Linked DNA regions of Homo sapiens: regions 2, 3, 4 and 5 are each linked to region 1. The links come from fine-mapping of genetic effects on gene expression. A gene starts in region 1. Each other region holds a variant in brackets. All regions are shown on one strand. Distances are between the middles of the regions.

Region 1 (5,108 bases):
TTTCTGCTGCTTCATACGTGGTTCATTCCACACAATTAATTAAAAATGCTGTTACTATTTCATACAGATAAACAACTAATGACAAAAACAAAAAAGGGGGAGAAATAGGGATTATGGGACAGCCCATACACAATTGAATCTAGCATTATTAACTTTAAATGTTTTGAGCCTGCCCAAAGAAGGCCAGATGTTATCAGCAGCTGAACAGCATCTACAGAAACCAGATGCAAAGACAGAAGCAGAACAACTGATTTGGTGGAGAGATCCGGTAACAAAAAGTTGGGAAATAGGTAAAATAATAACTTGGGGTAGAGGTTATGCTGTATTTCTCCAGGCCAAAATCAACAGCCGATTTGGATACCATCAAGACACCTGAAACCTTATCATTAGCCAGATGCCAAGGAAGAGATTCTGGGAGGATCCCAAGGACCCCCCCCCCCGGTTGCAGCCATGTTGAGACTGACACTGAGAAGGACCCCAACTGTCGTGAGCTATACCCATCAAACACAGCCACCCACCTGGGGACAGACCAAGAAGCTGTCACAGATGGCAGAAGAAAACCTGAGGAAAGCGGGACAACCAATCACAACGAGTAATTTAATGGTAGCTACCATAGCGGTGATCACCATTGCCATAAGTATTCCTTCAACAAGGGCTGCCGAGACCAGCTCGGTCGGGGAGAGCCTAACCTAGCGGCGCTAGAGGAATTAAAGACACACACATAGAAATATAGAGGTGTGAAGTGGGAAATCAGGGGTCTCACAGCCTTCAGAGCTGAGAGCCCCGAAGAGAGATTTACCCACGTATTTATTAACAGCAAGCCAGTCATTAGCATTGTTTCTACAGATATTAAATTAACTAAAAGTATCCCTTAAGGGAAACGAAGGGATGCGCCGAATTAAAGGAATAGGTTGGGCTAGTTAACTGCAGCAGGAGCATGTCCTTAAGGCACAGATCACTCATGCTATTGTTTGTGGCATAAGAAGGCCTTTAAGTGGTTTTCCACCCTGGAAGGGCCAGGGGTTCCTTGCCCTCATTCCAGTAAACCCACAACCTTCCAGCGTGGGCATTATGGCCATCACGAACATGTCACAGTGCTGCAGAGATTTTGTCTATGGCCAGTTTTGGCCATTCTCCTGAGGCAGGAGAATGGTGTGAACCCAGGAGGCGGAGCTTGCAGTGAGCCCAAATCGCGCCACTGCACTCCAGTCTGGGTAACAGAGTGAGACTCCATCTCAAAAAAAATTTTTTTTTACTATTCTGCTACCCAATATCCTTAAATAATTATTGAGTGCCTTAATCAAAATAAAAAATTCCCAGCTTGCCCTTTAAAATTCTTGTCAATCTGTTTCCTCTTATACCTAGTCAGCCTTGTTTTCCATTCCAACACTAAGTCTTAGACAAAAAGTCTTTATCTGTCCAAAAAATCTCTAAGTCTTTTTTTTTTTTCTTTTTTCGAGACAGAGTCTTGCTCTGTTGCCCAGGCTGGAGTGCAGTTGCCTGATCTTGGCTCACTGTAACCTCTGCCTCCTGGGCTCAAGTGATTCTCGTGCCTCAGCCTCCCAAGAAGTTGGCATTACAGGCTTGCGCCACCATGCCTGGCTAATTTTTGTATTTTTAGTAGAGACGGTTTTTCGCCATGTTAGCCAGTCTGGTCTTGAACTCCTGGCCTCAAGCAGTCTGCCCGCCTTGGCCTCCCAAAGTGCTGGGATTACATGCGTGAGCCACCATGCCCGGCCTCCCAATTTATCTTGAACATCCCTAGGTTCAACGTTCTATGAAAAACAGCCCCTTCTGCACGATTCCTTCTCATTTGTGCCCCGAACTTTATAAAATGCAACCACCTTTCTGAATGTGTATGAGCTCTCTATAGCATCAGGTCTTTATACTAGAGTTTGTAAAATGGTTTTGATTAATCTATTATTTAAAATGTTGGAGTAATTCTCAACATTTAAACATCATTGAAAAATTGCAAACTCTAGTAGGACCCACATTTCAATAAATGGCTGCAATTTACCAGTAGTTGACATCTTTAGATACGCACTGTTCAGTTAGAAAGTTACAGCTTCATTCGAAAAGCATTGAGCGTCTATTACTTGGGACACTGTTTTAGACGCTGGGGATATAGTAGTGACCAAAACTTATCAGGGAGTTTATAATCTAATGAGGAGGAGAGACAGGCAACATAATCATTACTACAGTTTTCTAAGAGGAACAGAGAATATGTGGGTGGGAAGGGTGCTTGGGCTTTTGCATTCATTTAAATACCTGGCTGGATGCTGTTGGAATTTGAGTTTATGACTCGTACTACCATCCGAATCGTCATACACCATCATGTACGTTATGCACTGCCCCTATAAAACTCTCAACAAGTCTAAGGCAGGGAGTGTGCCTCCTTCGCCTTTGGATTCCGGGGGCCCAGCAGTGTTTTTATGGAGGGGACACGATGGAAAGCGAAAAGTTAGGCGTAGTTACTTCGACCACCGCTGTCCCGGGTGGTTATTCTGACGGGGTTTGGACTGGGCGCCTGGGAGGGTGCAACACAATAATTGTTGAAGAGCAGTCAGGTCTTTCGCAGAATCTCAAAGCCACCTCCGCGCCGGCAGCTCCGTTTCTAGGGAAACAGGACTGTAACGCGTACGCGTCGTGGGTCCTCGTTCTCTAGCTACGAGTCCTGCCGCTCTGAAACAAACTAAATTCGTGACAAGAACTTGGCCCTCAGAGCCCGTCGTCCAACGCGAAAAACCACGGGTAACCGCGCCCCCTGCCGCGCCGCCGCTGGCACTGCAGCTTCCGGGGTCGTCCAGTTCCAGGCGGGACTACTTCCGGCTCCGAAGGTCCCCGGCTTCGTGGCTAGCCGGGGTCCTAGCGCTGGAAAGGTGGCCGTAGCGGCCGCCTGACCCCTACAAAAGTCTGGGACAGGGGCAGCGACAAAGGCCTTGGGAGGACGCCCATGGTCGGAGGGATCTCGCCCCGGGAGAAAAGTTGGGACAGGAGCGCGGGATCGAAGGGTGGACTCCGAGCCGGCCTGTCAGGCAAGAGCCGGGCAGGTGCGGTGGCGGAAGTGCAGGGACGGAGGCCGAAGCGGAGCGGTCTAGGGAGCCGCGGCCGCGGGTCACCCGGCGGGTAGCAGTTGCTGAGTGTCAGCTAGACAGCAGCGACTAGGGCTCGGGCGCCGGCGAGATGCCTTTGTTCACCGCCAACCCCTTCGAGCAAGACGTGGGTGAGTGCTGTGCCCGGTCCTGGACTGCTGTGTGCCTGGCCCTGGACTGCTGTTTGTCCGGCTAGAAAGTGGGCGGTAGCGACTCCGGGGACTAGGAAGCAAAGCGAAGGGAGGGGAGGGGCGGTGCCGCCCGCTCCTTCGACGTTGGGATTTTTCTGGGGCAACCTCGGCGCGTCGCTAGCGGTCTGGGGAGTGCTTCCTGCCGCCTGAGTTTGGGGACCCTCAAAGGGCCGTTCTCCTTGCCAAGCGTAGGATTTGGGAAGAGCCTAGGGCTCGCTGGAGACTGGACTGATTAAGTAGTTGTGGAGTTGGTGATTAAAAACTTCCTGCTCGTTCGACAGCTGGTTACCTCCGTCTTTGCCCCATCGTTTTCTGAAGATGATGCAGCAGTGGAGACCCTGCTGTCTAGAGAAGCCCAACACTAGACACTTGACACCTAGACAACCGCATTGAATAGGAAGAACTTACTTCCCCATTATTTATATTACTCATGCATTCAATCCCTGATAGGGTAGCTTTAAGATTTATTACAATTGTAAAGGTGTTGCTCTTCATCCCCGGATTGCAAAGATTGCGCGGGTGCTAGGAGATGTTCGGTTTTAGAGTATGAAAAGGAAATCTCCAGTCTCAAAACACTCCAGAACAACAAGTATTTTACATGTTGCAGTCATAAAGCGCTGGTCTCTCAGTGACTATAGAATGAGAAAAACATGGATAAGATATATACGAAATTATTTAGGAAATTTGAGTAACACTAAAACAAACTGAGAAATATATGTATGTATTCTCGAAAGTCTGGGTCTCACTATGTTGCCCAGGTGCGACTAGAATTCCTCCCACCTCAGCCTCCACCTCCGTTTCCCCTTCCCGAGTAGCTGGGACTACAGGTTTGTTTTTTGTTTGTTTTTGTAGCAGTAGTTAACAGAACCCTAGGTAAATTTTTAGAACTTGGAAATGGGGTTGGGGCGGGGAGACTCAGAAGAATACTGCACATCTCAGCAGTAATTCCCCTGTTTCATAGTTAACATTTGGTTATTAGGAGACTGTAGAAAGTGCCCTATTCTGATACGTTGTGTAATCCCCTAAGCCATTTTAAAAAACATGTTTGAGTCAAATAATATATGTAAATAGTTCAAATATGTATGTTCCTTACTTCATTAAACTTTTTTTTTGGTGGATGAATACAGGTGACTGGCGTAAATCTGGGAAACATCACTCTTAAGGCTCACTGTTTCCTTTTGGAACGCCTCATTGCAGTATTCTTTTGTTTGAATCATACAACCTTTGTGCAACCTGTACTTTTAAAAAATTGCTATTATGAACACTTTGATTCTGTTCTAATGAAATAAAACAGAAGGCGCAAAATAGAATTAGACAAATGATTTTAAAACTTAAAAACCGTGAATTCTTTTCTTCAATATAAATTTTTCTTGAAAGTTCATTGTTTTCTGATGGAAAAATTCTCTGGTACAAGTAGGCAGAGTTGCTCTGTCTGTTCTGTTCTAAACCTTTCCCTGCCTGGCTCCCGAGGCCCCAGCATTGGTTTAGTGGATCACAGTTTAGTCCTACAGTTGTAAAGGAGGCACTGCTGTTGAGATTAAAAAAACAAACAAACAAAAAAACTGTGTCTAGATTATTTTATGGCCAGTGCCATAAGCCAGAGCTTCAAGTAGTTACATATTAGCTTAAGCATGACTGAATTCAGAACCCCAAAGGCATTTTAAGGGTGAAAGAATGAATTTGAGGCCCTCCTGTAACTTCTGGACAAGAGAATGGAATTAGAAAAAGTAGAATGAAATACTAAAGAGCTCAAATTGGACTTGCACGTATATCATAGAAGAAAAATTATATATTACGTTTTTAATATCTTAAAACTTTTCATTTC
Region 2 (5,108 bases), 200 kb before region 1:
AAGTTGCCCAAGGCCACACTGCACAGCTGTGCTTCAACTCTCACATTCCTGAGACATCCCTGGCTCAAAGCTCCTTCCTCGGCCCCAATGAGTCCATCCAACTCCTTGCAGAATTCTCCAGGGAGGATATTTCTGACTTCAGAGGAATCCTCCTCTCCTCCAAGAGTATTATAGGTACATGCAGTGTTCGAAGGATCCCAGTCCTAGAAGCCTCAGCTAGCAACAAAGTAAGAGTAGCTCCTAAGAAAACATATGTCCACACAAAAACGTGTATAAGAATGCTCACAGCAGCATTATTCATAATAGCCAGAAAGTAGAAGCAATTTAAACGTCCACCAACTGATGAATCGAAAAATAAAATGCTGTATATTCCACAGAATTTACTAAAAATCAATTATAGTGGCTGGACACAGTGGCTCATGCCTGTAATCCCAGCACTTTGGGAGGTCAAGGGGGGTTGGATCACTTGAGGCCAGGAGTTCAAGGCCAGCCTGGCCAACATGGTGAAACCCCGTCTCTACTAAAAATACAAAACTTAGCTGGGCGTGGTGGTACATGCCTGTAATCCCAGCTACTTGGGAGGCTGAGGCACGAGAATCGCTTGAACCTGGGAAGCAGAGGTTGGGGTGAGCAGAGATCACATCACTGCACTACAGCCTGGAGGACTAAGCAAGACTGTCTCAAAAAATAATAATAATTATATATATATATATATATAGAGAGAGAGAGAGAGAGAGAGAGAGAGCTTCAATGGCTAAATGTTATAGTACTTGAAATGTCTATAAAGTCACATTTTAAAAAAATAAGAAAACTCCTAGATAATCATAACAAAGCAATGGCAGGAGGATACAACTGTCCATTTGTATTCCAAATGAGAAAGCCAACTGATGATGTTTTCAAGGAGTCTTCCCTAAATTCAGCTGCAGATTTCACTGTCTTTCATTGTAATCTTAAAACAGAAAAGCCAAGATCATCTCCAACTTATAGAAATTTTAGATGATCTACACAGAGTAGAATACTATATGTATAGATGAGGTATCAGAAAGACCTTTTAGTAAGTCTTGTCATCTGAATTAAACTTAACATTGCTACCATTTTTTCATCCTAAATATGAATGAATTAGACCAGATCAAAATCAAGGAGTACTTGTTCTATGCCAACTCCTATTTTAAGCACATACAATCTTATGTAACTTAATCCTCATAACCTACCAGGCATGAGCATTCAAGGTTGGCAGGGCCCTACTCCAGGCCTCCGCCATGCCTTCAGAGGCTGAAGAGCTACTGCTGGTAGAGAAGGTGCTCAGCAGGGAATGGTGGACAGGGCTTGAATCCTCTGGCCCCCAACACCTGTTCAGTGCTCCAGAGAGGATACTGCTTCTGTAACTGCAAACTCTTACAGTTTCAATGATCTTCCTCCATGAAAAGGTAGTAGTATTCTTAGGTGCTAAAAGTAAACTCAATCCTCTAAGGCTTTAACTCACTGGAGAAACAATAAATGTAAAAAATTAAAATATATGTATGTGAAATATACATGTATGTGAAAAACTGTAGTAACAACATCTCACCAATGGGAAACTATAGTTCCAGTTCAATAGCACCAGTGAAAAGCAGTGACCACCTCAGTCTAAATGCATCAGGACAGCCTAGCAGGGAGCAGGGACAAAATACATACCACGAACTCACACCTCTCTGATTTCCACTGGCTGAGCCCACCTGAAAGTGAGACCTAGGGACCCTCTCATATAGTCTATAAGGGTGAGCAGGATGGAGAGTGGTTCTAGGACCAAAGGGAAAATAATCTTCATGTGGGATCACAGGCCCATTAGACGATGATCTAGCAGCCAGTTGGCCTCATCTAAATGCATATTCAAATGGAAAGCATGTTTCACTAAATGCTGGTGACAGGGTTCCACAGAAAATCATTTGTAAAGCAGTTTCTCATAGTACCTCCCAGCTGGTCTATGTCTCTAGTTTTTCGGGTTTAATGCAGAATTTTTTTAAGCCATTAAAATTAAGACTTTTCCATAATCCGCGTCATTTTCATTTGATGTATACCTCTTTTTCAAACATCTTGACTGAAATAACCCACTGGTTCAATATCACCTTCCAAACACATATTTACAACTGACACAAGATTAGCAGTCACTTGTCTGGAGTTGTCAAGGTATTATCTGATCAAGAAAATCTGCGTGCTAAAGGCCACAATTAATGACATTCTTCTACACATTTGTAACAAAAATATTACCCAACCCTAATAACCATGACCCTCTCCCACAGGCCAAGCAGGATAGTTCATATCTCCCTTTTAGCACTTGAGAAAATAACACTCCCACCCCAGAGTGGTTATTCTTCCACTTTGGAATTTGGAATTTAGGGTGAAGGATTCCCCTTTGCAGCCTCTCTTTTAACGCTACACCTGTTATTAAGTCTCTTTATTCATTTGGGAACATTCATTTAATGATTATTACATACATAACTGAG[A/T]TGTTTCCTACCCTTAAGAGCAGTCTGAAGGCGAAAAGTACCTAAAGGCAAAGCCTCCATATGCCTAGAATTACACAGATCAACCATAGTTTCAAATATTCTTTTCCTCTGCCCATATAACCAATCACAACATACAGGAAAATCTACTGTTTTGTATGCAAAGAACACCTCCTAGCCTCTTCTCAAAGCCAAAAAACCTTCAACCATTAATGTGTTCTGATTTCTAGTGCAAAAAAAAAATAGTAATAAATTATGCTTCATGAATCGAGTTGAACTCTTACATCCCAGATTTCTGAGAGTTTAAAAAAAAAAATACAGTCAGCCTTCTGTATCCATGGGTTCCACATCTGCGGATTCAACAAAGCAGGGATACAAAATATTCAGGAAAAAAAAAAAATTTCCACAAGGTTCCAGAAACCAAAACTTGAATTTGCCACATGCCAAGTACTACGTTGAATCCACAAGAATGAAGTGATGTGTAGACATTGCGTTAGGAATTATAGATAATCTATAGGTGATTTAAAGTATAAGGGCGGATGTGCATGGGTCAGATGCAAACAATATGCCACTTTATATCAGAGACTTGAACACCCATGGATTTTGGTATCCACAGGAGGTCCTGAGACCAATCCCCCAGAACCCAAGGGATGACTATAATCTCTATCCAGGGATTTCCTTCAAAATCTCATTGAACTAAAGTGCTTCAGAAACACCAAACCCAAATATACCCTTCTATCTACATTCTGGCACAAACTAAAACTCCCCCCAACTGTTCATGGAGAAAATATCCCAGTAACTAAACCAATCATCAGGGACCACCAGACTTCACCCATACCATTAAATGCCCAAAAAAACTTATTTTAAAAAACTGATTCTTAAAATCTCAAGTTAAAGAATTAACCTTGAATAGTCTCATAATATTTCATATCATTTATAAGAACAGTAACCAATTTTTAGCAAAATTTTAGACACAGAAGGGACAATCAAGATAACTTTGTTTAAACCCAGTAAACTGGTATAGGAAGAGATGAAATGATTAGTTCCAAGTTACACAACCTGTTAGTGTTAAGGCTGGAACTAGAACCCTGATCTCTGACATGGGTCCAGGACTGTTTGATTTCACCATGTTCCCTTATATGCCCCACCTAACCCAAAGACACGATAAGAACAGAGCACTCATCTTCCAACTCCCAGATACCTCTTCTTGGGGTCAGAATACTCTTCCTATTCCAAATCAGTATGTGCCTCTCAGATTTTTATCAGCCAACCAAAACAGAGAGCTAAAGTAGCCTTCAATGAAACCAGAGGAAGCTGCTCTGTCTCAGATTACTGGAACACGGGCTGTAATTAATAGCAATCCACTGAGAGGAACAGCCCTTGCTTTTAATTGGTATTAAACAGCCAATGTTCAGGCCGCCCAAAGGGAACTGCAGAGAAGTTCTCAGAAGTGCAAGGTCAGCCATACAGACCCTGCCAAGGTTAAAGCACAAAGGGGGAGTTCAAGGCCCTTCATGAGCACAATGCAGTGAAAACCCTCCATTAACACACAGAAAGCATCCCAAGAATAAATGGGTGAGATGAAGATGCATCACCAAGAGGATCTTTTCCCAGATGCAGTAACAAACTTTCTCCCAAAGAACCCTATGTCAAACTCTAAAAATAAACCAAATCCTCCCATGAACCATATAAAGAATGCACCTATGGTGCATGCTGTGCAATTTATGTAGCTATCTGAAGGCAGGCAACTAACCAAATTTCCAAAAGAACCTTCCATATAATCAACACATTAGGAAACATAAATCTGACACAAATGCTAAATTAGACTCTCCTTAGATGGACCTCTAACTATAATTTACCTACCTACAGAGTACTCTTAGTGCTCAACAAAGGTAACAGGCTAATAATGCATGCCAAATAGTACTTGTATTTATATCGACTAAAATACCTTTATTAGCAACGGAAAAATCCTTACCCTGAGATGTATGATTTCTCCCCACCAAATTGAGGACTCTTATCTTCCATATACTACACCCGACATGTGAGCTTAAAGAAGCTGTAGTGTCACCTGGCTCCATTTATTTTCTGTTGCTCATAATAAGATATCTGAAACTGGGTAATTTATAAAGAAAGGGAATTTATTTCTTGTAGTTATGGAGGCTGGGAAGTTCAAGGTGGAGGGCCCACATCTGGTGAGGGCTTTCTTGCTGGTGGGGACTTTCTACAGAGTCCTGAGGTGGTACAGGCCATCGCAAGGTGAGGGGGCTAAGTCTGCTAGCTCATGTCTCTCTTCCTCTTCCTAGAAAACCACCAGTCTCACTCCCATGATAACCCATTAATTCATGAATGGATCAATTCATGCATGAAGGCAAAACCCTCAGGACCCCACTTATCAATACCACCACATTAGGGATTACATTTCTTTCTTTTTTTTTTTTTTTTTTTTTGAGACAGAGTCTCACTCTGTCACCCAGGCTGGAGTGCAGTGGCGCAATCTCTGCTCACTGCAACCTCTGCCTCCCAGGTTCAAGCGATTCTCCTGCCTCAGCTTCCCAAGTAGCTGGGACTACAGGCACATGGCACCACGCCCAGCTAATTTTTGTACTTTTAGTAGAGATAGGGATTCAC
Region 3 (5,108 bases), 960 kb after region 1:
TTTGGTTGCCCATCACCCATTTCCCTTACTTTGGCACACACACTAATTTCCTTTTGAAGAATTAACTCTCCCTCTGGAAATTTTCTTTTTGGGATTGTCTACCCACTAAGCAGGCAAGTGACTCCAGCTTGGTTAATCAGATGCTCCTGGAACTTCCAGTCTTGATTGGAGCAATGCAGAAAGGGTACGAGATGCTAGGAGATTATTCGTTCCAGTGATGGTAGGTGTGGAGAATGTTGATTAATTCCACTTGCTTTGGAGCTACCCTGATTCCTAACCTTTTTTCGACTTGTTTCTCTGGTATTGCTATCAATTTTGTATGTCCCCTGATATCTACCTAATATATTCATGTTCTGTTTAAAGTTGTTTGTTACTTGTGACCAAACAACTATCACTGATTTAGTGGTGATCTCTGGAGTACATAAGAAATCTTGTCTATTTTAATTGCAATACCTCTTCTAGCAGTTCTGATCCTCTTTCCCTGCTCTATTTAAAAAACACACACTTTATAACTTACTTATTGTGTTTATTGTCTATCTCTTTCACTAAAATATAAGCTCTATGAATGCAAGGATTCTTGATTTAAATGTGTTTCTTTGACTCGTGTATCCCAAATACCTATGACAATTAGTGGAACATAGTAGGTACTCAAGAAATATTTGTAAATTTAATAAAGTCTTTAAGCCACTGATTTGTGAATTTCTTGATGGTCTATATGGAGCAATGCTTAGTGCCCAGTTTGTTGTAAAACCTTGGCATGTTTTTGCTGCAGATGGTTTGGTATGTTATCACTGAGTGGGTTAGGAGAAAATGTAATAACATGAGGACAGTAACCAGCTGCTTTGCATCTCCAAGGGTATGAACAAAACTCTGGGCTCAGATGGTTAAAGTTCTACACAATTGTCCAGATCTTGATATCTAACCAAAGTCCATTTTACTTTTTAAGGGAAATTTTGGAAATATCAATAGTAAGGTAAAAGTAGATTTGATTAAATGACTCAAAAGTAATGCATTCATTTTTGAATTTTTTTAAAATTTAAAATTTGCACTTATTCCAACAAAATGACACAGCACCCAATTGAGACTGAATGTCGTAATCGGACAGCAGATCTCAAGGTGGCAAGTACAGCCAGTAGAGGATGGCTAGTGTGATTTGAATAATATTGTAGAAACTGAGCCCAGAATGAGGTTATTACCAGAATGTTACAGTTGCTAGTGGAAGGTAAATTGAACAACTAATATTGGAACGGAAAGAAGAGTATTTATTAAGCAAGCATTAAGTTTTACATGAGATTTACATATGTTATTTTACATATGACTTTCATATGTTTTTTTCACTTTATCCTCAGAAGAAGCCTATGTGTTAACATCTTCATTTTATAAACAGAGAAACTGATATGAGAAGCTAGTTAACTTGTGGTCACACAAGAAAATGGCAGATCCAGAATCTGGCTCACGTTGACTGATTCTAAATTTCTGATACTTTCCACTACATCACCTCCAACCAAGAAATTAGTTATTAAGTCTGAAATTATAGAAAACAAGCCAACTTTTCTGGGTAAAGATGGTGGATGAATATAGGCAATAGCTATCACCCTCTTGTCGAACCCTAAGCCCCTCTAATCTAAACTTTTTTTTTTTTTGAGACGGAGTCTTGCTCTGTCACCCAGGCTGGAGTACAGTGGTGCAATCTTGGCTTACTGCAACCTTCACCTCCCAGGTTTAAGCGGTCCTCCCACCTGCCTCCCACCAGCCTCCCAAGTAGCTAAGATTATAGGCGTGTACCACCAGGCTCAGCTAATTGTTTTTGTGTTTTTAGTAGAGGCAGGGTTTCTCCATGTTGGCCAGGCTGGTCGCAAACTCCTGACCTCAAATGAACCACCTGCCTCAACCTCCCAAAGTGCTGGGATTACAGGCATGAGCCCCTGCGCCCGGCCTAAACTTTTTTTTTTTTTTTTTTTTTAAGGCATAAACACTTGAGGACAAGAGAATGGGAGAGAAAATGAATAAAATTTTGAAAATTGATAAGTAGATGGGAAAGTGGTAATTGATTAAGCAGATCTGACATGACTGAATCCTCACTAAGCAGTGGAGAAAGTTGAGAAACAAATTGATTTACACTGAGTTGAATCCCTAAG[G/T]CTTAATTAGAGCGGATACCTCTGTAAGTGCAAAGAAAGTAGTCTGATTTCTTTCAGAAGCAGTTAAGCTCCCTAGGCCTGCGTCCCGATTCTACAGAGTTGTATGACGGCTTGCTCTTCCATCATCATGGAAGAAGATTGAAGCTATATTCCCAGGAAATGTAACATGGAAGGGGTAACGTAGAAAGGATTCCAAGCACAATTGAGGACAGGGGCCCATACTGAAGGCAGGGAAGAAGGTAAAATTTGTATACTCAATTCTGAAATCACTGAATCACTGTCTTTCCCTACAAACCTCACAGAAAGCCAGCAGCCAGTCCCATACCCTATAGGAGAGGAATTCGGATGATCATTCTCTGGGGAATCTCAGCAGCCCATGGCTTTCCAAGAGGAGAGACCTAATGACATTAACGCTAGGGATTCCTTAGGGAAATAGCTGTCCTCATCGCTTGGAACTGGAGCCCATGGCAAAACAGCCCCACCTTTGTGCTCAAAACTTCTAATCAACTTTTTAATAAATGTAAACAAATTTAATTGTGGTAAAAAAACACATGAAATTTTTCATCTTAACCATTTTTAAGTGTAGAGTTCAGTAAGTATTTCAGAATATTCACATTGCTGTGTGACAGATCTCCAGAACATTTTCATCCTGCAAACCTGAAACTGTATGCTTATTGAACAACTCCCATTTCCCCCTCTTCCCTGGAAACCACCACACTTCTGTTTCTATGAGTTTGACCACTTCAGATCTCTTGCATAAGTGGACTCATACAATATTTGCCCTTCTGTGACTGGCTTATTTCACTTAGCATAATGTCCTCAAGTTGCATCCTTGTTGTATAGCATGTGACAAGATTTCCTTTTTTATTTAATATAAAATATTCCAGGTTTTAATCGACTTGTAAAGCTTCACTCTTAAGTATGTACAGACAATCTGCAATTATCAGGCATCAGAGCAAAGCTTCTTGTATGTAGTAAACAACATAAAACACCAAACAACTCAGGGATAAGATAACTTTACAAAAACTATCACTTAAAACCTCAGAGAAGGCCGGTCATGGTGGCTCATGCCTGTAATCCCAGCATTTTGGGAGGCTGAGGCAGGCAGATTACCTGAGGTCAGGAGTTCAAGACCAGCTTGGCCAACATGGCGAAACCGCGTCTCTACTAAAAACACAAAAATTAGCTGGGCATGGTGGCGTGTGCCTGTATTCCTAGCTACTTGTGAGGCTGAGGCAGGAGAATCGCTTGAACCCGGGCAGTGGAGGTTGCAGAGAGCCGAGATCGCGCCACTGTACTCCAGCCTGGGCAACAGAAGGGACTCTATCTGAAAACAAAAACAAAAACAAAACAAAACCTCAGAGAATAGGAGATTCCATACAGGAAGCAAGAATAGAATAATTGTAACAAAAAGATCAGTAAAAACAAAAACAAAGAGTTGTTGGGAAAACCTGAAAGAATGGTTGAAATGTAAAGCTGAATAATTTCTCAGAAAGTGGAAAAAAGAGAAAAAGGATGAAAAATGAGAGAAAAAAGATAAGAAAATTAGAGCACAACGTCAGGAAACCTAAAATCCAAAATAATAGGAATTTTACAAAGAGAAAACAGATAAAATAGAGGAGAGGAATTCATCAACAAAATAATTACAAAAATTATGCAGAACTGAAGCACATGAATTTCTTGGTTGAAGGGTCCACCTCATTCACTGCACAATGGTGCAGCATGATGAAATCTCAGGACACCAGGGACAATAAGGGAACTCTACCAATTTTATTTTATGTTTTTTTTACAAAGAGAGATAAAAAAGAATTCAAAGTTAGAATGGCATCAATATTGCAACAGCAATGCTGGAAACTCTAAGATAATGGAGAAATGTCTTCAAAATTATAATAGAAAATGATCTCCAATTTAAAATTATTTGCCCAGCTAATTTATTAATCAAGGTATCCAATGACTATTAAATTTGTAAGTGTCAAGGCTCTACTTTATCACTTTGTTTGCTGAGTAGCATTGCAGAAATAACGTCAGTTCAGGCCCGGCACAGTGGCTCATGCCTGTAATCACAGCACTTTGGGAGGCTGAGGCAGGTGGACCACTTGAGGTTAGGAGTTCCAGACCAGCTTGGCCAACATGGTGAAACTCTGTCTCTACTAAAAATATAAAACTTAGCCGGGCATGGTGGTGCGTGCCTGTAATCACAGCTACTCAGGAGGCTGAGGCAGGAGAATTGCTTGAACCTAGGAGGTGGAGGTTGCAGTGAGCTGAGATCATGACACTGCACTCCAGCCTGGGCAAAACAGTGAGACTGCATCTCAAAAACAGAAAACAAAAAACAAAAAAAAAATACATCAGCTCATTTATCTGTATTTCCTTTTTGTTATCTTTAAATACATTTTAATTGTGGAATAGTTTCAGATTTACAAAACAGTGTGAAGACAGTACAGAGTTCTCATTAGTCCATGCCCAGTTTGCCCTATTATCAACATTTTACATTAGTATAGCATGTTTGTCACAATATAGGAACCAGTATGGATACATCATTATGAACTAAAGTCCATGCTTTATTCACATTTCCTGAGTTTTTACCTAAAGTCCTTTTTCTGCTCCAGTTTCCCATCCAGGAGACCACATTACACTTAGACATCACAACTCCTTAGGCTCCTCCTGATTATGACAGTTTCACAAACTTTCCTTGTTTTTGATGACCCTGACAATTTCAAGGAGTACTGGTCAGGCATTTTGTAGAATGCCCCTCAACTGAGATTTGCCTGATGTTTTTCTGATGATTAGGCTGGGATTATGGGTTTTGAGGAGGTAAAGTGCCAGTCTCATCACATCCTATTAAGGGCGCATGCTATCCACATGACTTATCACTCTTGACGTTTACCAGGAGCACCTCGCTTAGGTGTGTTTATCAGGTTTCTCCACTGTCAAGTTACTCTTTCCCCCGTTTGCTTGCTGTACTTGTTG
Region 4 (5,108 bases), 220 kb after region 1:
CTTCTGATATCTTTTCCACTGACCCTGGGGATCTCAGGTTAGAAGCCAGGTCCCGGATTGAAGGCCTCAACCCTTTAGCCATTGGTTTCTGGCTAAGAAAGTTACTGACTTCATCCCAAGATCATGAAATAGTTTCGTTCTAGACAGCTGGGACTCCCGGTTACCAGGAACTTGCTGCCAAATAATCGGTTATGGCTCTATCTGTTCCGGGCCTGTACCTATCCTCATATACCCTATTATGCCATGTTTGGAAACTATAGAGGAAGCTTGCCATATATTATCCTTTTACATTAAATATTTCTTTTTCTATTTAGAAGTAGATTGTAACATTTTCCAGAGTCTCTCATACTTCTTATATGTGGTAGATGAGTTTCTAGCCATTAATTTATGCGCCTGTTGATACATGTGAAAAAAACAGGTCCCTAGTCAAATAAGCTTGATAATCACCATACTCCGTCCCTTTCTCAAAAGATTCACAGCACCCAGTAGCCCACTAATATCTGTTAGCATTCCACAATAAATAAACCAATTAAATTTTATTTAACCCCAAGATATTCCAAACCTACTTGATCTCAGAATCCATTTTTTTCCCTAAAGAATACCTATTAAGTACTTGAATAACTAGTATACTACAGAATACAATTAGGGAAATGCTGGTTTAGTTATTTACACCAGGCCTCATAATCACTGCAAACCATCTCAGTGTTGTAGACTGGAAGGATTTTGTGGGACAGAGTGAAGTTAACGTTAAATAGATACAGTATATATATTTCTGGGGCCTCCCTCTTAGGAGACTTTGATTCAGTTAGTTTGGAGTAAGGCTTAGGATTCATATTTTTGGCAAACGCTCCCCAAATCACTTTCATGTAAATTCTTTGAGAAATACTGGGTCAAATTATTGTCTTGGTCAGCTCGAGAGTTTGTGACAGTGCACACAGCACTTAGTTTCCCTGTTCTTTTAGCTTCTTGTCCACTTATTTGGGGTGGTAAGCACTTTGAAGTATGAATGTCTTTCTTTAAATAAAATGTAATTGGTTTATTCATCTCCCTATCCTTACCCTACCCTTGCTTGCCTCAAGATGGGCACTCAATAAATGGTTGTTGGAATGAATTGAAATTCAATAACTTTAATTCCTCCAGGAATCAAGAGGAATCTAGGGAATGGTCAGAAATGATTGAACACAATATATTTTATCAGGGATTCCCAAGGGACACACACACACACACACACACACACACACACACACACACACACGCCCAGCCACTCTACTTTTTTTTTCTTTGAAAAAATCAAAGTGAATTTAAAATTGGGGGTTAGCAGGTTTAGGAAATTAAAAGGCCTATATTCTTTCTTTTTTTTGAGATGGAGTCTGACTCTGTTGCCCAGGCTGGAGTGCAGTGGCACGATCTCGGCTCACTGCAACCTCCATTTCCCAGGTTCAAGTGATTCTCCTGCCTCAGCCTCCCAAGTAGCTGGGATTACAAGCATGCATCACCACGCCCAGCTAACGGCTAATTTTTGTATTTTTAATAGAGACTGGGTTTCGCCTTGTTGGTCAGGCTGGTCTTGAACTCCTGACCTCAGGTGATCCACCGCCTTGGTCTCCCACAGTGCTAGGATTACAGGCATGAGCCACTGTGCCCGGCTGGAAATTAAAAGGTCTGTATTCTTAAAAGAGCCAGAATATGATGAGACACTCAGCTATATTGATTGTAAAAATAATTGGTGGTAGTGTTAGTCTCCCTCCTCGCCTACAATCCTAGACCCTATTCCCTAGAGTAAACACTTGATAGTTTGTTTCTTTAATAACAGCTTCACTGCATATAATTCACATACCAAGGAATTCAGCCGTTTAAAGTGTACAATTCAGGGGTTTTACTATATTCAGAGTGGTACAACTACAATCATCACCACGACCAATTTAGAACATTTTAATCACCCCAAAAAGAAAACTCATACCTATTAGCAGCCACTCCCCATCTCCTTCCAACTCTCTCAGCCCTAGGGTGTGTTTGTGCATTTGCCTCTTCTGGATATTTCGTACATTGGGAACCACACAATAGACAGCCTTTTGTAGGCTTCTTTCACTTAGCATAATGTTTTCAGGATCCATCCATGTTGCAGCTTTTATCAGCATTTCATTTCTTTGTATTGCCAAATATTATTCCATTACATGGATATATCACATTTTATCCATTCATCCATTGATGGACATTTGGGCTGTTTCCACTTTGTGGCTGTTATGAATAATGCTGCTGTGAACATTCATGCACAAGTTCTTGGGTATGTGTGGATCATAAATTTCTTCACCAGTCACATCAAAATGCGTCATCTTTAATAATTTGATGTATACTACAAGTATATCGAAGATACAAGGTGTTTTAGAATCCCACTCCACTGGCCTGAATGGCCATATCTCAGCTATTTCCATATAATCCTGCTCTTGTCAGTTTGTACGAGTAAGCAATGCTCAGTCTCAAGTACAAAAATTGTGGACATTACTCCCTCCTTTTGAGAATCTCTCTTCTCCCACATCCTCTTTATAGACTTTATAGACTTTGAATTGCTCAAAGTCTAATTCTTTTTTTTTTTTTCTATTTTTTATTTTTGAGACCGTGCCTTGCTCTGTTGGCCCAGGATGGAGGGCAGTAGTGCAATCATGGCTCACTGCAGCCTTGACATCTTGGGCTCAAGCAATCCTCCCACCTTAGCTTCCTGGGTAGCTGAGACTGCAGGCGTGTACCACCACACCTGGCTAATTTTTTATTTTGTGGAGATGGGGTCTCACTATGTTGCCGGGGCTGGTTCAAACTCCTGGGCCCAAGCAAGCCTCCCACCTCAGCCTCCCGCCTCAGCCTCCCAAAGTGCTGGGATTACAGATGTGAGCCACTGCACCCAATCAAAGTCCAACTCTTATTCCACTTCTTCTATGAGGTTCCTCTGCTTTTCCAGCCTCTTCTGAATTCCCATAGCAGCATCTGCCCCATTCACTTGGGCATTAGCCACCTGCAGTCTTGGATGGCTTCTTCACCATTTCATGTGTCTGCATCTTATTTCTGCAAACATAGGACTCTAGAGGGCAAGGATCAAGTCTTACCATTCTTTTCTGCCTTCCTTCCCTCAACTCCAACTATGCAAGGGTAGAGAATGAATTAAAAAAGACATAGCACAAT[A/G]ATACACAATAAGTTAATATTGAATGAGTGGATGAATGCTATAGCTCTATGATATTGATGTTCTCAGTGCATAGTAAGATGGGAATGGTTTGCACCAACCAGTGAGGAAATGACGAGTGTAATTAATTAAACCAGGTGCAGCTCTGAAATTGTGAGGTGCTTATTTAAAAGTTGCTGACTTGTTGGCTGGGCACGGTGGCTCACGCCTGTAATCCCAGCACTTTGGGAGGCTGAGGTGGGCGGATCACAAGGTCAGGAGATCGAGACCATCCTGGCTAACACAGTGAAACCCTGTCTCTACTAAAAATACAAAAAAAATTAGCTGGGCATCGTGGCGGGTGCCTGTAGTCCCAGCTACTCGGGAGGCTGAGGCGGGAGAATGGCATGAACCTGGGAGGCGGAGCTTGCAGTGAGCTGAGATCGCCCCACTGCACTCCAGCCCAGACAACAGAGCGAGACTCCATCTCAAAAAAAAAAAAAAAAAAAAAGTGCTGACTTGTCACAGTAAATGCTGAAAGGCATTCTATTTAGAAATAATCTTGTCTGTGTATCATAGTTTCTTTATTTCTTCTTGTTCTCATTTGCAAGGACATATTCAGATATATTGTCTTGAAAATAGGATTCTTTCAACTTCTTCTCTTTTATTTCCAAGTTCAGATCATAATTTAGTGACTGTATTATTATCAGAGTTATTATGTCTGTGATGGCCATATCCGAAATCTCTGTGACTTTTCAGGCAAGGTTAGTTATTTGAATGAACCCCGCAAATGAACTTTCTCATGTTAATCTCTAAAGCCAAATGGAAACAAACAAACAACAAATTTCAGGAAATCAGACACATAAAGGTACAATAATTTGAAACAGAACAAAGATATTTTAGTTTTTCTCACTCTTGGCAATGAAAATTTCTCTATAAAATCTGCTCTTCAGACATTTCCCCATGGATGACAGAATTAAGCAAATCATCCCAGTTTGTTCTTTATGAGCTGCTTATGAAACATTCCTTGGAAATAATTCTGCCTAAATAAAATTACTCTATTAATTCATAGCCTTAATTTTTGTGTGATGTTGAAAAGAACTAAGGAATAGGACGGTCTCCTTTGGTAGTAATAAACCATGCCACTCTGGTTTAGAACGAGGAGCTTGCTGAAGGTTGGAGAGGCAGAGTGTACATTATAGTGAAGCTGCGGTTGTTGCTTCAGGGACACACTGATAACCCTGGTCACAGTTGCAAGAGGTAGATGGCAGATCCCTTCCACAGGTATGTGTCCTTGTATCCCCATGGTCATTCATGTTAAGATGGGAGGCATCTGGGTGACTTCCTTAAGTTCTTACTGTGAAGATATGTTGACATATTTGTTCAAAAGACAGATAGAATTTGTTGTAAAGACATCTGAGCTTTGTAAATTAATCCTGGATATATCTATTGATGGCCTTCATGTGGGGTGAACACGTTTGTCAGAGTGTTACCAAAGGACTGTTTACAGATGCATTCTTTTCTGAGCATCTAAATGAAAAGTTCACAAGTACCTATGGAACTTCCAACACTGTGCTAGAGATGATAACTCTTAAAAGAGTCATAGAAATAGAAAATATTCCTAGTAGAAAAATTCTTAGAGTGAAATCAGGAGGAGATCTGTGCATTTGAAACCACCAGGAGGGAGCATAGAGTAAGAGGATGGACTTTGTGTTTGTAAAAAGAACTGGACTTACAATGCTTTCCGTTTACTAACTGTTTGGATTTGGACAATTGTGCTCCACACAAATTCTTTCCCTTAATTTTCACAATGACCTTATGATGTAGATATTTTTGTCACACATTTTCTAGGCATAAAAAAAGTCATATGATTCGTCCAGGGTCATACAGCTAGAAGACAAGCCAGGATTTGAACCCAAGTGTCCTACTCTAGACTGTCTTCCTAAAACAGGGAAGG
Region 5 (5,108 bases), 36 kb after region 1:
AGAATAGATAGAAATACAGATGTTTCTCAACTTATATTAGCCTACAGTTGGGCAAAATCATCTAACACAAAACCTATTTATTATAATAAAGTATTGAATATCTCATGTAACTTATTGAATACTGTACTGAAAGTAAAAACCAGAATGGTTTATGGGTATCTGAGTGTGTATCACTTTTGCACCATCGTAAGTCATGCCATCATGAGTTTGACACTGTCTGTAAAGATGGAGAGATAGTGTGGGCTCTGAACACTGACAGTCTGAAATGTCAGGCTTATGAGTGTCTTTTAGTTAGAGTACTTACAAAAGAACTTAGGTTTACCGTTTTGATACTCTTATACAACTATGAAGTTAAAGATATTTATAAAATAAAAACAAAATGAGTGGTTTTGTCTAAGATTTTAATTTAGAGCATTACTTTATATAACAAAATTTTCTAAAATAAATTACTGCTCACAAAACAATTTTCAGTTAAGATTTATCACCTCAAAAAAGAACTTTTTTATTTGTAACTGCTAAGAGAATTCAACATGAATGTGATGGAATTTGTAGGTCAATTGCTGTCATTTTGACGATAGGACACCCTACTTTTATAGTTGCTGTAAGCATGCTTATGGGTAAAATATTGTCATTTTAGGTGATTGGTAATCGCTGGTAGACAAATGCAAACTTGCATGCTAAAGTTAAATGACAGTCTTCGGTTAAAAGGAAGTCATCCAGAAAATGACTCTATTCATTGTTTTTATACTTTTGTGGAATTTGAAGCATAAAATTTTCACACACAGAAGTCCCTTGAAGTCCCTTGAAAATATATCATTCTTGGATCTCCATTTAAGAACCATGGAGCTGGCAGGGCGTGGTGGCTAACACCTGTAATCCCAGCACTTTGGGAGGCTGAGGCGGGCGGATCACGAGGTCAGGAGTTCGAGACCACCCTGGTCAATATGGTGAAACCCTGTCTCTACTAAAAATACAAAAATTAGCCGTGCATGGTGGCGCACGCCTGTAGTCCCAGCTACTTGGGAGGCTGAGGCAGGAGAATCGCTGGAACCCGGGAGGCGGAGGTTGCAGTGAGCCGAGATCGTGCCATTGCACTCCAGCCTGGGCGACAGAGCGAGACTCTGTCTCAAAAAAACAAACAAACAAACAAACAAAAAAACATTGAGCTGATAGAAAAGGTGCACATTTCTTATTTATTTATTTGAGACAGAGTCTTGCTTTATCGCCCAGGCTGGAGTGCAGTGGTGCCATCTCAGCTCACTGCAACCCCCGCCCCCTGTGTTCAAGTGATTCTCCTGCCTCAGCCTCCCCAGGAGCTGGGATTACAGGCATGCGCCACCATGCCCAGCTAATTTTTGTATTTTTAGTAGAGAGGGTTTCGCCATGTTGGCCAGGCTGATCTCAAACTCCTGACCTCAGGTAATCTGCCCATCTCGGCCTCCCAAAGTGCTGGGATTACAGGCGTGAGCCACTGTGCCGGCCCAAAGGCGCACATTTTTTATTAATGGAGTATATCAAGAAAAGCGTTTTACTTTCTACACTTTTAGCTTTATCTTACCACTCCATGTTTCTTTTCTTTTCTTTTTTTTTTTTTTTTTGAGACAGGGTCTCACTCTGTCGCCCAGGCTGGAGTGCAATGGCGTGATCTTGGCTCACTGCAACCTCCACCTCCCAGGTTCAAGCAATTCTCCCACCTCAACCTCCTGAGTAGCTGGGAATTCAGGTGTGCACCACCATGCCCGGCTAATTTTTTGTATTTTTAGGGGTAGAGACAGGGTTTAATCATGTTGGCCAGGCTGGTCTCAAACTCCTGGCCTCAAGTGATCCACCCGCCTCAGCCTCCCACAGTGCTGGGATTACAGGCGTGAGCCACTGTGCCTGGCCCACTCCATGTTTGTTTTCTGTGTACCATTTCAAATAATCAAGTGGAATTCTTGCAGTTCCAAAAATGCCATTTTCTGCTTAGTCCTCTGTAGCATTGCACCTTTGGTTCTGTCTGCCTGGAAAGCCCTGCTGAAGGAGGTAAAAGCATTTAGAAAAGGAAAAGAACTTTACTTTCAAGGACAGTTTGCAAGGGAGTCCAGGCTTTAGAAAAGTTGCCTCCCCATGTTAAAAAGTAAAACAGGTATTTTAAGGAAAAGACCCCCACAAGGTTACCAGGTTTTTCCAGGTTTGCTATTTATATGTTCATGGTAGAAATAGCAGTTTTCTCACGTGATAATTATATCCATAAAGGACATCACTACCTTCAGTCATTGTCATTGCAAAAGTTAGCA[G/A]GTGAGTACTTTTTGTTAAGAAATCAGTAGTTAAAAGGAAAGGCTCAAGTTTTTATGTACTTTGAGACCTAAAACTAAATATGGTAACATTTTTTGTTTTATCTCAGAGTGCAGAGTTTTTTGTTTGTTCGTGCCTTGTTTTCTTGCTTATCAATAATGGCAGGAGGGCAAAATGTCATTTTTATTTCCACAGACTTAATTTTCTTTTCCTCCTGGCAAGTGCCTACTTAACCTTCAAAACCCGTGTCAGATTTTATATCCTCTGAGAAGCCTTTCAACCTTTCTCTGCTTTTTAGCTCCCAGTGGAGTTAAGAGTTCTCTTCTTTGAGCTATAGCTCTCTGAACATATGTAACAGCATTTCTCATACTGTATTTTAAATAGAGTCATTTCTCAGTTCCTTAGAGAGTTGGTTCCAGAACCCCTGTTGATACCAAAATCCACAGATGCAAGTCTTCGATATAAAATGGCGTCATATTTGCATATAACTTACACACATCTTCCTGTATACTTTAAATTATCTCTAGATAACTTATAGTACCTGATACAATGTAAATGCTATGCAAATCATTATATTGTATTTTTAAATACAATATATTGTATTAAAAATTTTTTTTGTTGTTCTATTGTCATTTTTGTTTATCTTTCATGAATACTTTTGATTTGGGGTTTGTTGAGTCCATGGATGTAGCACTTGCCAGATACAGAGGGCAAACTGCGCTTCTTTACGTATGTCTCTCTACTAAATCAGTTGATTCTGAAGAGGCTCATGACTTCCTTGGGTGGGAGGAAGGAGAAAGGAGAAAAATTCTGAAGGTAAAGCAAGATAACATATTTTTAGTCAGTTCTGTAGGAGAGATTGTAAAACACTGCTAGATTTTTTTTTCTTGTTTTTATAGATAGGGTATGACTGGGTTACCGAGGCTGGAGTGCAGTGGTTATTCACAGGCGTGAGCATAGCACGCTACAGCCTGGACTCCTGGCCTCAAGCAGGCCTCCTCCCTCAGCCTCCTGGGTAGCTGGGACTACAGCTTTGTGCTAGATTTTAAACTTCTTGAGGGCACAAATGGTGTCTTAATTATCTTTGTAATTTCAGTGCTTAGCCTGAAGGTACTATTTTCTCCATGGTAGGTTTTCATAAATGTTAGCTGAATAATGTTTGTTGAAGGTGAGGTTTATGTTCTTTACACTTGTATCATTTTTTGTTTTTCACTCAGTTGTGATTTATTCTTTTTTTAATATAAAAAGCTCTAAATATAAATGCTACATTAAAATTTTCTTTAATTATTAAATGGTTTGTGTAAAATTAGAGTGCCAATTTCTTTAATTTGAGAATTTAAGCTTGAACAATGTTTTTTTGCTATCAACATTCCATAGAATCAACTTGTAGTCAGTGGAGAGAATATAGAGCTGGATTAGGGCTGGGAAGGAGTTGTCAATTTGGTTGCTTTGCCTACTTTTATGCTTCATCAAAGAGTTTGTAGTAGTGGCTGGGAGGAAAATTATCCTATATTGGTAGAACCACTAAGGAAGGGTACACACATACAGTTGTTGGTAGGTTCATATAAAACGCTTGCATCCATTTCACAGGTTTGGGTTTTCTCGTTTTATACAAAAATTTCTCAAGTTCAGCTCTCCTTTTCAAAATGAAAAGTTAACTTAAAAATGTGTTTGTAAGAGAAAGAAAATTTTTCCTATCTTCCATAGATATTTGCAGATATGATATCTTAGAACTGTCAGTACATCAATACATCAGTTATTTTCTGGCTTTAAGAACTTGGATGATATATAACTCTTTCGTCTCTTTCTAGTGCTCATAAATGAAATGATGTTTCATAATCATAGACATTAATTCATCCATAAGACTCATACTTAAGAATGTCTATTCAATAAGTCAGATTTTTGGAAAGGAATAGATAAAATTATCATTATTTCCAGATACTATGATTTTCCATATAGAAAGTTCAAGAGTCCGATGGATAAACTATTACAAGTGGTAGGAGTTCATAAAGGTTGTTGGATACAAGCTCAACATACAAAACTCAGTAGTATGCTTTAATTACAACTTTTTAGAAAATGTAGTAAAAAAAAGTCATTCTCAGTAGTAACAAAAATTATATAAATGATCTAGAAATGAATAAGCCTAACAAAGATATGTAAGGTCTTTATGGATTAAATTATAAAATTATTTGAAAGCTATAAAAGAATATAAATATATTTTTACATATTATGTTTTACATAAATGTAAATGGAGGATACCATGTTCATAGGGAAGAAACCTTAATATTGCAAAGATTTCTTTTTTCTTATATTATTGCATAATTTCAGTGCATTTCCAGTTCAAATCCCAACAGGACTTTTTCCCCAGAGAACTTGAAAAGTAATTTAATATTAATGTGGAAATTTGAAGGTGTGCAATAAATGAGAAAGAGTAACATAGAAAGGGTATTTTCCCTGGCAGATATTAAGGTACATTAACAAGATGTGTGAACAGATACATGGACTATTGCAACAGAATGGAGTCTAGAAATAGGCTCATGAATAGATTACTGTTTGAAAGGTAGGGTATTATAAATTACTAGAAAAAATGGTGGACTATTTAATAAATTTTGCTGTGATGAATGGCTCTTTTTATACTACAGATAAAATTTTGATCAGTTTCACATAGTACATTAAAATTTCATTCCAAATGAATTAAAGACCTAAACATGGGAGAGGGAAAAAAAAAATAAAAAAACTAAAACTACAGTTAAGTATATAGGAGAATAGATTTAGGAGTTTAAGGGTAGAAAAGGGTAAAAGCATAAGCCATGAAAGAAAAGATTGCCAAATTT

Which allele goes with the higher level. Alleles are on the strand shown, and positions count from the first base shown. SD is a standard deviation of normalised expression in the study named. Not every link is listed here.
For the expression in left ventricle of the gene that starts at base 3,063 in region 1, allele A in region 2 goes with a higher level than allele T (small effect, 0.28 SD a copy in GTEx).
In carriers of allele G in region 4, the expression in substantia nigra of the gene that starts at base 3,063 in region 1 tends to be higher than with A alone (small effect, 0.33 SD a copy in GTEx).

Evidence for each region. PIP is the estimated chance that this variant, and not a neighbour inherited with it, causes the effect. A credible set is the group of variants that fine-mapping cannot tell apart.
Region 2: its variant is the best candidate, but not a certain one, in a credible set for the expression of STAM2 in left ventricle (GTEx, PIP 0.71).
Region 3: its variant is the best candidate, but not a certain one, in a credible set for the expression of STAM2 in caudate (GTEx, PIP 0.68).
Region 4: its variant is the best candidate, but not a certain one, in a credible set for the expression of STAM2 in substantia nigra (GTEx, PIP 0.61).
Region 5: its variant is the best candidate, but not a certain one, in a credible set for the expression of STAM2 in whole blood (TOPMed, PIP 0.54).

What each region holds. Positions count from the first base shown.
Region 1 is chr2:152,173,718-152,178,825 of GRCh38, reverse strand. It overlaps STAM2 (signal transducing adaptor molecule 2), which reads left to right and starts at 3,063. Exons shown (of 14, transcript NM_005843.6): 1 at 3,063-3,223. The coding sequence starts at 3,184. It overlaps LOC105373689 (a long non-coding RNA gene), which reads right to left and starts at 3,293. Exons shown (of 3, transcript XR_923477.3): 1 at 2,269-3,293. RefSeq lists enhancers at 2,706-3,125, 2,602-3,125, 3,286-3,425, 3,476-3,525.
Region 2 is chr2:152,371,488-152,376,595 of GRCh38, reverse strand. The region is part of intron 1 of FMNL2 (formin like 2); the gene reads right to left. Among named protein-coding and RNA genes, the nearest start is that of FMNL2, 39 kb to the right of the region's middle. The variant A/T (reference allele first, on the strand shown) is at 2,484.
Region 3 is chr2:151,210,913-151,216,020 of GRCh38, reverse strand. No RefSeq gene overlaps it. Among named protein-coding and RNA genes, the nearest start is that of RBM43, 48 kb to the left of the region's middle. The variant G/T (reference allele first, on the strand shown) is at 2,139.
Region 4 is chr2:151,953,405-151,958,512 of GRCh38, reverse strand. The region is part of intron 2 of CACNB4 (calcium voltage-gated channel auxiliary subunit beta 4); the gene reads left to right. Among named protein-coding and RNA genes, the nearest start is that of ARL5A, 130 kb to the right of the region's middle. The variant A/G (reference allele first, on the strand shown) is at 3,175.
Region 5 is chr2:152,137,629-152,142,736 of GRCh38, reverse strand. The region is part of intron 7 of STAM2 (signal transducing adaptor molecule 2); the gene reads left to right. Among named protein-coding and RNA genes, the nearest start is that of STAM2, 36 kb to the left of the region's middle. The variant G/A (reference allele first, on the strand shown) is at 2,277.